Homo sapiens: one gene and its partner. The protein of the gene in region 2 interacts with the protein of the main gene of each other region in a pairwise test. Each region holds a gene or a part of one and is shown on either strand. Other genes may lie near its edges.

Region 1 (5,055 bases), on a different chromosome or scaffold from region 2:
GGGCCCAGGGCAGGGTTCACACCCAGTGTGGCTCCAACTCTCGGCTCTTCCAGGAGTGGATGAGCCATCCACATCCCTGCACGGGCACCCACATGCTGGTCACGCAGGGAAACGGCCACGCTCATGTTTTCCTGTATGCTGTGGACTGAAAAATGCATCCCCCACATTCATAGAGCCCTAATTCCTGACGTGACTGTATCTGTAGAGGGGGCCTTTAAAGAGGTGATCAGTTAGATGAGGTCCTCAGGGTGGGCACAGATCCCATAGTACTGACATCTTTATAAGAAGAGAAGAGACGCCAAAGCTCGCTCCCTCTCCACACACACTCAGGTAAAAGGCCACTGCAGACACACACTCAGATAAAAGGCCACTGCAGACACACACACTCAGGTAAAAGGCCACTGCAGACACACACACTCAGGTAAAAGGCCACTGCAGACACACACACTCAGGTAAAAGGCCACTGCAGACACACACACTCAGGTAAAAGGCCACTGCAGACACAGCGATGTCTGCAAGCCAGGAAAAACAGTCTCAGGAGAAGCCACACCCTGCCAGACCTGGCTCAGAGATGTGCAGCCTCCAGCACTGTGAGAGGAAATATGCCTGTTGTTTAAGCCACACAGGCTGTGGTATTTTGTGACACAGCCCAGCTGACTGGTGCACCACAGAAAGACACTCAGAACATTAGAGGAGGCAGCAATGATGTTCTTGCCAATTCCCCAAGCAATGCAATAATTCCCCATCCTGAGCAGCTGCTGAGTGGGAATGTCTCTGGAAAAGCCTCCCAGGCCGCAGGCAGCGAGAAGGTGGGGCAGGCAGCTGGACTCTCCATCACTGGATGGTCACCAAACAGGGTTCATTCAGACCTGCACACCTCTCCGTGTACCTCATCATCATTGCTTTGGGCGGGCCCCGTGGCCTACTGAGAGTTCCTGGCCATTGATGGACATGGCCGTCCTCATTTTTCTGAGGGCCTGTCCCTACAGCTTTGGGATGATCTGACTCCTTTGAGAAGAAGCAAAGTCTTCACCTGGGTGCAATGGCTCATACCTGTAATCCCACTGCTTTGGGAGGCCCAAGCAGGAGAATCACTTGAGGCCAAGAGTTTAAGACCAGCCTGGGAAACCTGGTGAGACCCTTTGTCTGAAAAAAGAAAAACGCCGGGCATGGTGGTGCATGCCTGTAATCCCAACTCCTCGGAAGGCTGAGGCAGGAGGATTGCTTCGGCCAGCAGTTTGAAGCTGCAGTGAGCTACGATTGTGCCACTGCACTCCAGCCTGGACAACAGAGTAAGACCCTGTCTCAGACAACAACAAACAAACAAGCAAAGCCAGAAAGGGCCCCTCCCCAGAACAGAAGCATGGCCAGCAGGGGCTTTGCTGCGTGTGGTCCACGGCAGTCGTGTGGCAGGGGGCGGTCCTGAAACCCAGAGTGAATCAACCATTTGGGTGAGTCACGGCAGGGCACCCAAGGAGATGCCGCTTCTCCTGTTGCTCCATGCCAGGAGGCCCTGGACACCCGGCTCTCCTCCCACCTTCAGCCCTCCTTCTGGTGTGGCTGTCCCAACTGTGAGTCCCTGAGAGGGAAGTGGCCAGAGCCGAGGGCAGGCTCACCCCGCTCCCCAGGCAGCCCCTGTGAGCAGCCTCTGTGGGTCCTAGAGCCAGAGCCAGCCCTGGCGACCCTCCCCTCCTCTGCCCCGTCCTGAGTGTCCACCGTCTAATTCTTACCACTTCAGGGTGAAGAAGGCCCAGGACAGGCCCCCTGGGGAGCAGCCCCCTCCTCAGCTCCCGAGACAGCCAAGGAGAGAGCCCAAGGACTGGCAGCCCTCTCCCCTTCCTTCCACGCCTTGTAGCAGAGGAGGGTGCCCACCTACCCACCACCAGTTTGGAGGCTACCCACCTACCCACCACCCCCCACCACAATGTGGCTCCGAAGCCGTCTATGCCACAGCCCCTCCAAGGGCATCTCCCGGGGCCAGGAGGCACCTTCCCTTTGAGACCTCCCCTGGGTGGGGCCAGGTTTTTGCCTCTTTGATGCCCATCTCTGCCCTGGTTCCCCCGGCCACATTGCCTGCCAGTGCCCTTCGTTCAGAAATCACATGAGGCCAGGCGTGGTGGCTCACCCCTGTAATCCCAGCACTTTGGGAGGCCAAGGTGGGCGGATCACCTGAGGTCAGGAGTTCGAGACCAGCCTGGCCAACATGGTGAAACCACGTCTCTACTAAAAATACAAAAATTAGCCGGGTGTGGTGGCGCACCTGTGGTCCCAGCTATTAGGGAGGCTGAGGCGGGAGGATTGCTTGAATCCAGGAGGCGGAGGTTGCAGTGAGCTGAGACTGAGCCACTGCACTCCATCCAGCCTGGGCAACAGAGCGAGACTACATCTCAAAAAAAGAGAAAAAAGAAATCACAAAAAGCCACCTGGCCACCTCTCTGGTGTCTGGTGTGGGGGAGCCTGGCACCCATGCTCTGCCCCTACTAGACTCCCCTGGCTGTCCGTAACCTTGGGAACACCCAGCCTCTTTCCAGAATGTACTCCTGAGGGAACTGAGGCTCAGAAGAGAAGCCACTGGCCAAGATCCCAAAGCTCCTTCTGGCAGAGCCCAAGGTCAGGCTTCTACCCGGGGTCCCGTTCACAAATTGTGTTCACCCTCAGGTCCTGGGTCGACCTCGGAGGCCACACGAAGGTGCCTGTCCTCCTCTGCAGCCATGGGCTCCAGTGTGTCCCAGCCTAGGACCTCTTGGTGGCAGCCCCCAGGGGTCAGCTGGACACCAGGCAGCGTCGCCTGCCCTCTGGGAAAGCCCTTCCTGTTTGCTCCCCGGGCTCCTCTGGCGTCTCTGGCCCCTCTCAGTGGACATTTCCCTCCGGACGGCACTGTACGGGGGCGGCTGCCCGAGGCAAGGCCTGGCCCCACCCCCCACCGAATGCTGGCAGGGCCTCACCCCCGGCACACCTTCCCACCAAGACCCAGCTTCCAGAGTGGTGCTGGCCACAGCCATGGGCACTTTTGTGTGAATTTCAGTTTGGCGTGTCCCCTGTGGAGGAGCCGACAGCGGGGGCAGGAAGTGCAGGCTGGGAGGGGAGTCGGTGCTGCTGAAGCCTCTGGCCAGGCAGCCTCCATGTGCTGAGCGGTGGGCCCACTCTGAACCCCTGGCCTGAGAAGGAAGGAGGGAGGGGCCCTGGGATGGAGCCTCAGGTCCAGGCCCGCACCCTCCACTGCCCAGACCCCGGCAGCGCCTCTTCATCTTGCTGAGCGGCCATTCCTTCAGCTGCAAAAGGTCCTCATAACTGAAGCATCGTCCTCAGGGTGATTGTGGTTGAGGACCCAGGATGTGGCTGTGCATTGCAGCATGGGCATCATCCTACCTGGCCTGCCCGTGGCCACCAGCTGGCCTCTCTGCGGTGTCACCTGGAGGAGGCTCCACAGGAGCCAGCTGAGCCAGCACCAGGCACACACTGGGCCACTGGGAGCACCACGATGAAGGATGTGTCATTGGATTGTAAACTAGAGTATAATAGCAAGAGCCGTCAGTCCACAAGGATCTACATAAATGTTGAGTAAACAAATAAATGGAGAGAAAGCGAGATCTCCCACACAGAGGAATTCCAAATAACGGGAGTAGATGCCTCGTCCTCCAGGAGGGGGTCGTAACTCCCACTCCTGACATGTGGACAAGTGTGGGCTACACAGAGTGGCTCCTTCCCGAGAGCGCCATGTGGGAGGGGAGAGAAGGAGCAAGTCCACCGTGGAGCAGGCCACCATGGCTGACGAGCATGACCCGGTCAGCAAGGCCGCCACGGCCAGTGATCCGCTCTGCTGACAGCAGGTGCCCTTGATAGGATGTGGTGAGGACACTTCACCTCATGGGCTTCCTTCTCAACCCCATAAGCCCAGTATCGCCATGAGAAAACATCAGGCAAAAACCCTCAGCAGCCCTCCTCAAAACTGCCAGAGTCCTCAGACACAAGGAACGTCTGCAAAAGGTCGCAGCCGAGAGGAGCCTTGGGAGACGTGCCGACAGAACGTCATGTTTCCTGGGTGGGATCCTGGAGCGGAAGAACATCAGGTGACACCCGGGGAAACCCGAATCCCGTGCGGCGTGCAGGTGGCACCAATCTGTGGGCACCCTAGTGATGGGAGAGGGGACGGCAGGGACGCGGGCCGGGAGGGTGCGGGAGCCCCCTGGACTACCTGAAGCTGTTCCTAATGAAACATTTACTGAAATTTTTAAAAATGGAAGAGGAGAGGAGGGGGAGGAGGAAGAGGAAAAAGTAGAGAAGAAGGAGGAGGAGGAGGAGAAAGAGGAAAAAGTGAAGGAGGAAGAGGAGGAGGAGAAAGGAAAAAGAGGAAGAGGAGGCAGAGGAGGAAGAGGAAAAAGAAGAGGAGGAGGAGGAGGAAGAGGAAAAAGTGGAGGAGGAAGAAGAGGAGAAGGAAGACTTTTCGAAAGGGCTGAAGCTGCTCCTCTCCTAACAGGCAGCATCCCAGGTTAAAGGATGCTGAAGCATCCCCGTCTGTAGCATATCAGAAGCCCCCTGGGATGTGAGCCTAGCAGCACAGTGCTCCAGGTGGGAGCTGGCGATGCATTTTGTTCCAACGAAGCCTCACAGGCAGCAGGCAGGCATGAGTGCAGAGGAGGGAGAGGTCCTCAGAGACCAAGTCCTACCAGAAGGCTGAGCAGAGGAGGCAGAGCCTGAACCTGGACCCAGGAAGGGTCCGGACAGGTGGGAAGCCCTGGAGAGGACACTCGTCAAGGGGCGGGGTGCTGGGAGGGAGGGACCGAGGTGGCAGGACTCGGGCTGGTGTTAGAGGGCCCTGGGGGGCCAGAATGAGGTGGGCCAACATGGCTGTGTCCCCAGCTTCCCTGCGGCCTCAGGCCCCTCCAAGTATCTGATGAAAGCTGATGAGTCTCCGGACCCTCCTCAAATAGACGTGCACATGTGTCCACAGACTCTGGTTTGAAACTTCAGGGGATGCTGCCCTGTGGCTGGGAACTGGGGAGGGACAGGTACACTGTGATGTGTTAGATCCTCGGCCCACTGAGTGGGGGCTGA
Region 2 (5,588 bases):
CTGGTGCCCCAGCTCAGTCCCTCAGCTCTGCACCCACATTGCGGCAGTGGTACCTTGCCTTCAAGACTTGGGAAATCTGAAAGCACCACCCCCAACCACAGGTCACCTGTTTCAACCCCATCACTTCCCATATCTCTAACAAGGACAGAGGAGCTGATTTCACCTTGTGCATTGTCCATGTCAACAGGCCCAGAAAATAAGAAATCAAAGGTATTTTTTGCATGTTGCATGGTGCATGCTTATTTTGAAACAGGGAAGAATCTTTTTTTTTTCCCCAAGGCAGAAATCAATAATTATAGTATTAATTGTACTCCTACAAGGAGGAAGAAAAAGTGCAAGACGGTACCAGGACTTGGTATATTTGAATGTGTAAATGAATTATAATCTGTATAGAATTATGTGTTTCAGTCAAATCCTTTGATTTTGAAAATCCTCTTTCTCTTCCTAACTTCTTATATCTATGACTCCAAGGGTATTATTTTTCCTCAGACATAATATGAGTTATATCATTGGCCCTAATGACAGAATTAAAAGCAAGTAGTAGAGATTCAGGACTATGATATGTTTCTGATTGTTTATTAACAGGGACCCTAGCATCCATCCAAATATCCTGTACTGATGGAATAGTAGACAGGATTAATATAAAATGGAATATTATCTTAGATCTAGGCCTGTGACATAGCCAAGCACGTTCTCGTAGCAGAAAGCAACTCTACACTAAGGCATGCTGGCTTCCCAACTATTCTCAAGTAATTCAGATTGTGGATCACCCATACCCAGAATTTGATAGCTGTTATATCAATAAAACAAAACAGTTAAAGTGCCTGCATAAGAAGGGGTGGTGATTTTCAGCTCAGCACATTGAAATAATGTAGTTTTAGAGCTTTGAAATACCATGGAGAGTATGTTTCACTGTCACTTTTCAGATGATGAATGTCACGTTGAAGGGATAAAGTGACCCTCATTATCTTGTAAATGATGTCACAAAACAATTCAAGTCAAAAACATGCATTAAATACCTGCTATATGTGTACCACTATACTAGCTTTCTTTAGAGTGTGTGTGGTTTCTTTTAAAGGGAAGTAAGAGATTTTTTTTGTCTTAGAATAATTCAATTTTAATCAGTAGAAAAAAATATACACAATTTGGAGAGGCTATATACAGTTATTAAATCTACAGTACAGCTAGAAAACCAATATAAGGCAAAATTAATTGTGTAAGTCAGATTATAAATAATCATCAACTGAGTTCAATATAACAGGAGTAATGTGATGGAACATGGTTAGTAAGGGAAGTTATAAAAAATGTCAGGCCTGTCGGAAATATTTAGGATTTAACTTAATGAAGAGGAAAGAAGTTGGCATTTCAGAAATGGAAAACAATCTGACCAAATATACAGAAGATGATCTCAGAAGTCTGTGTGTGGAGACATAAGACGATTAGCCTTATAATCTGACGGTAATAATAGCAGCAATATCAAATGCTTTCTGTGAGTCAGGAACTATGCTAGTATACAAAATAGTTGAAAAATTAATTAAAATGGATTACATCAGTTAAGTTTTGTAACTATATGAAGTTGATAATACTATTTTCCCTATTTTGTACACCAAAAAACTGAAGTTCAGTGAATAATTGTCCAGGTAATGGGTCTGTTTCGGAGCTGACATTTATGTAATGTTAAGTCTGTTGATTCTTGAAGCCATGTTCTTTATTACTATCATTTATTGCTACAAAGAAATAACTCATGTTAGCAATTTAGCCTGACTTTACAATTCTCATGAAGAAAATCATTATTAAGGAATTATAACCAGAATTCCCAATTTATATAATTTTGGGGTCATTTAAAAAATGTATTGGAGATTAAGTCCTTGTATTTTAAACATTCAAAGAAAATGAGATGGATAAAATTTAACTTTTTCTGTGATTCTCAATTGACAATCCTACTTATTTGAGGTAAATTGACCTGTTTATTATATTTTAAATACATATATGTGATTATAAAATTTATTTGTAGAGTATTTAAAACGAACTCACAATCTAATCATTACTGTTTCCTGAGTGCATTAACTATCATTTTTTGAACCATGATGCCATATACTTATTCTTTTTTTGTGAAAAGTGATTTCACTCTAGAAGCTTTTTCAAAGCATTTCTATGTGTGTTTCACCACACTTTATGTTTTCTCCTGTTTTGGATATAGTCAGAGAGTTGGAAGAGGGTGAGCCCCAAAGGGCTTTTGATACATTAAAGGCATATTTATTGAAGACCTATTGTTTTGGGGCTCTCTTCCTGCACCCAACATTGAAAAATTTTCAGCATTTGCTTTTTACTTTTTAAAGAATTTCCAAGTAAAGAAAATTCAAAGAAATGCAAAGTAAATTTGATGAACAGGAAAATAAGAATGATTATAATTTAACTACCAGTAAAAATATCAATAGATTTCTTTGAACAGAAAAAAAAGCTTCTTATCATGGGTAAAATTTATAATAGCTTCTGCAAAAATAGAATAGTATGGACTATGAGACAATGCTATTCTTTTTCATGTTTATTTTCTCCTTGCATCTTGCTATATTATCTCTTTAGGTAAAAATCAGAAAGTCAGCCTACTTTTTTTTATTACAATCTATTATTTTCAGAAATCGTATCTTGAGTATAAAAAACTTATTAAAATGGATGTGGAATAGATAAATCTTATCCCAAGCTCTTTTGATGTTTGGCTAGTGTTTAAATTGGTAACATTATTTTACAGAATGATAGGAAGAAATAGACAAATGCTGTGTGATATTGAAGAATTTATATGCTTTCATGGGTTGTTTCTTGTCTTGCTCCTTCCAGTGTGATGCTAAGCTGAGCACAGGACTCTTTTTGAAATCAAAGAGCTTTAGATTTAGGTCAGCTTTACTCACTCTGAGATTCTGAAATAACAGGGATCATAGAATACAGATGGCATCTAATTAAAACATGAGTGCTTGGAGGATATTAGTTTAAAGTCTGGGCTCTACTGTCCTTTGATATTAAAATAAAATGGATCAACCATAGTATGCTGAGCTAAATTCAGATATAAAGTGTGTTTGATGTTCCTTTTTCATACATAAAATCTTAAGGTTCTGAATCTGCTTGCATTTGTGTGATATAATTGCTATGATATGTTAAATTCAGATGTAGTTTAAAATACTATTTCACATTATAATCATTGCTTTAGATAGGATGGGCATCTGAATGCTGCTCAGCCTGCCTTTTTTTTTTTTTGAGACACGTCCCACTGTGTCGCCCAGGCTGCAGTGTAGTGGTGTGATCTTGGCTCACTGCAACCTCTGCCTCCTGGGTTCAAATGATTCTCCTGCCTCAGCCTCCCAAGTAGCTGGGATTACAGGTGTGCACCATAACATCCGGCTAATTTTTGTATTTTTAGTAGAGACGGGGTTTCACCATGTTGGCCAGGCTGGTCTTGAACTTTTGACCACAAGTGATCCGCCTGCCTCGGCATCCCAAAGTGCTGGGATTACAGGCGTGAGCCACCATGCCTGGCCTACTTTTTGATCAACATCTATATTGTCTGAGACTTTTTTTTCCCATGCAAAAGACTGGATATTACAAAATTCACCCATGGAGTTGTGTCTGGGTCCCCAATCTGTTCTGCCTTCATTTATAAAAGAATTTAAATTTTTATCCTAGTGAATTAGTATGGTGGTCCATATGGAAATTAGGGTAAGCATTTCATCAAAGCCTCGTAGAGTCTGCCACTTACCGAAGACAGTCTGAAGATTAGTTCCAATTATAAAGACTCTCCATTCATGGGCCTGCCCTGGGCTTAAAGCTATTTGGACACATAGCTTATTTAGGGAACAAGTTGAGAGCTATTTTATATTTCATAAAACTTTATAACTGGTGTTTTATTCACAAAAGTCTCCTTCCTTTAAGACATCAAAACATTCCCAAATACATCACACTGAAAACTTAGTGGCAGCAGTCTATCTGTGACTTTCTTCATTTCTGCAGAACCACATGTAATTTGGAAAATGAGCAATATGGAATGTGTCTGCCTGAGATAAAATAGTTAATCTGGGTTCAAGCAAATCAGTCATTCAATAAATATGTATTGATTACCTAATAGGTGTGCTTTTCAAAGCTGTGAGGATATTGCAATAAATAAAATATGCAATGATGCCTGTTCAAAGACAGTTTATATTCTTTGGTGGAAGAGAAACAATCAATAATAACCCCTCCAAATAAGTAAATTATTGTGTGTGTCAGAAGGTCATATGTGTCATAGAGAAAAGTATATCCCTGATTCTCAAGGGAAATAGAGAAGGGATGGTGTCACAAGTTATGTTGGGGTATTGGGATAGGTTTCTTTGAGAATGTAACATCCAAGGAGGTGATACTCCTTAAGAGAGTATAGTGAGGAAGATGCTCTGAGGCCAGAGAGTGCTTGACAGGTACAAAGAACACATTCTGGGCTAGCAGTGAGGAACAGGATGTTGAGGTTGTCAGAGGGAGATGTAGCTGGGAGCCGGATCCTGTAGGAGGGTCTTGTGGGCCACTCTTTAGTCTTTGATTTTTACTTTAAGTAAGACAGGAAGTCTTTGGAGGGTTTCAAATAGATAAGTGACCATCTTAACTATCTCACTGCTAAATAAGAATAGACCATGAGAGGGTGAAAGTTTAAGCTGGGAGAACTTAGAAGTCTATTGCTACCATCTAGGTGAGTGATGATGGTGGCTATGGTCAAGTTATAGCAGTGAAGGTGAAGATAAGATTTCCATTATGTTTTGTAGGCAGAGTAACAAACATTCACCAAACATCAGAGCCACTACGTGAAATGAAAAAAACAACAACAACAAAAAAAAAACGCTGAAACTAGCCTTATGTGCTTTCTTATTTTGTTTTTCTCTTTTTATCTCACTGTCATTTACTCCACTCCCTTCACAAAGTTCTTGAGAATCCTTGACTTTCCAGGCTTCTTTCAGCTATGCTATCTGTCACTCGGCCTCTATACTGACCAGTTCTGTGTACCACTCCTGTGCTTCTCTCCAGCTAGCCTCTCTGAATTGATCCTAGTAACGGTTCGCACTCAGGTGTTCAATGATTGACAAAAGCTTGTCTTCCTCTCTAACCCCGCACTCCCTGGGGGGATTTGCTTTTTTTTTTTTTTTTTGAGGTGTAGTTTCGCTCTTGGCGTCCAGGCTGGAGTGCAATGGCGCAATCTCGGCTCACTGCAACCTCTGCCTCCCAGGTTCAATTGATTCTCCTGCCTCAGCTGGGATTACAGTCACCTGCCACCACACCCAGCTAAGTTTTGTATTTTTAGTAGAGACGGGGTTTCACCACATTGGCCAGGCTGGTCTTGAACTCCTGACCTCAGGTGATCCGCCTGCCTTGGCCCCCCAAACTGTTAGAATTATAGGCATGAACCACCACACTGGCCAGGATTTGCATTTTAATTGAGGGGAGTGTGCAGTTTAACTCAAACAAGAGAATTGTCAAAGGAAAAAACAGGGATCAAGATAATGCAGCAAATGTTACAGGTTTACGTCATGAAGAAAAATGACTTCAAAAATCTGTATTAGAAATGTTCTCAGGGCATG

The links. The genes of interacting proteins can lie anywhere in the genome.
Region 1: the proteins of MLIP (region 2) and ABLIM2 interact in a two-hybrid assay, tested with the Homo sapiens proteins (one large-scale study listed by BioGRID).

Annotation. Positions count from the first base shown.
Region 1 is NC_000004.12:8,022,278-8,027,332, reverse strand, and holds part of ABLIM2 (actin-binding LIM protein 2), read left to right. Parts: intron 1-5,055. UniProt on the Homo sapiens protein: May act as scaffold protein. May stimulate ABRA activity and ABRA-dependent SRF transcriptional activity.
Region 2 is NC_000006.12:54,138,077-54,143,664, forward strand, and holds part of MLIP (muscular LMNA-interacting protein), read left to right. Parts: coding exon 1-210; intron 211-5,588. UniProt on the Homo sapiens protein: Required for myoblast differentiation into myotubes, possibly acting as a transcriptional regulator of the myogenic program. Required for cardiac adaptation to stress through integrated regulation of the AKT/mTOR pathways and FOXO1.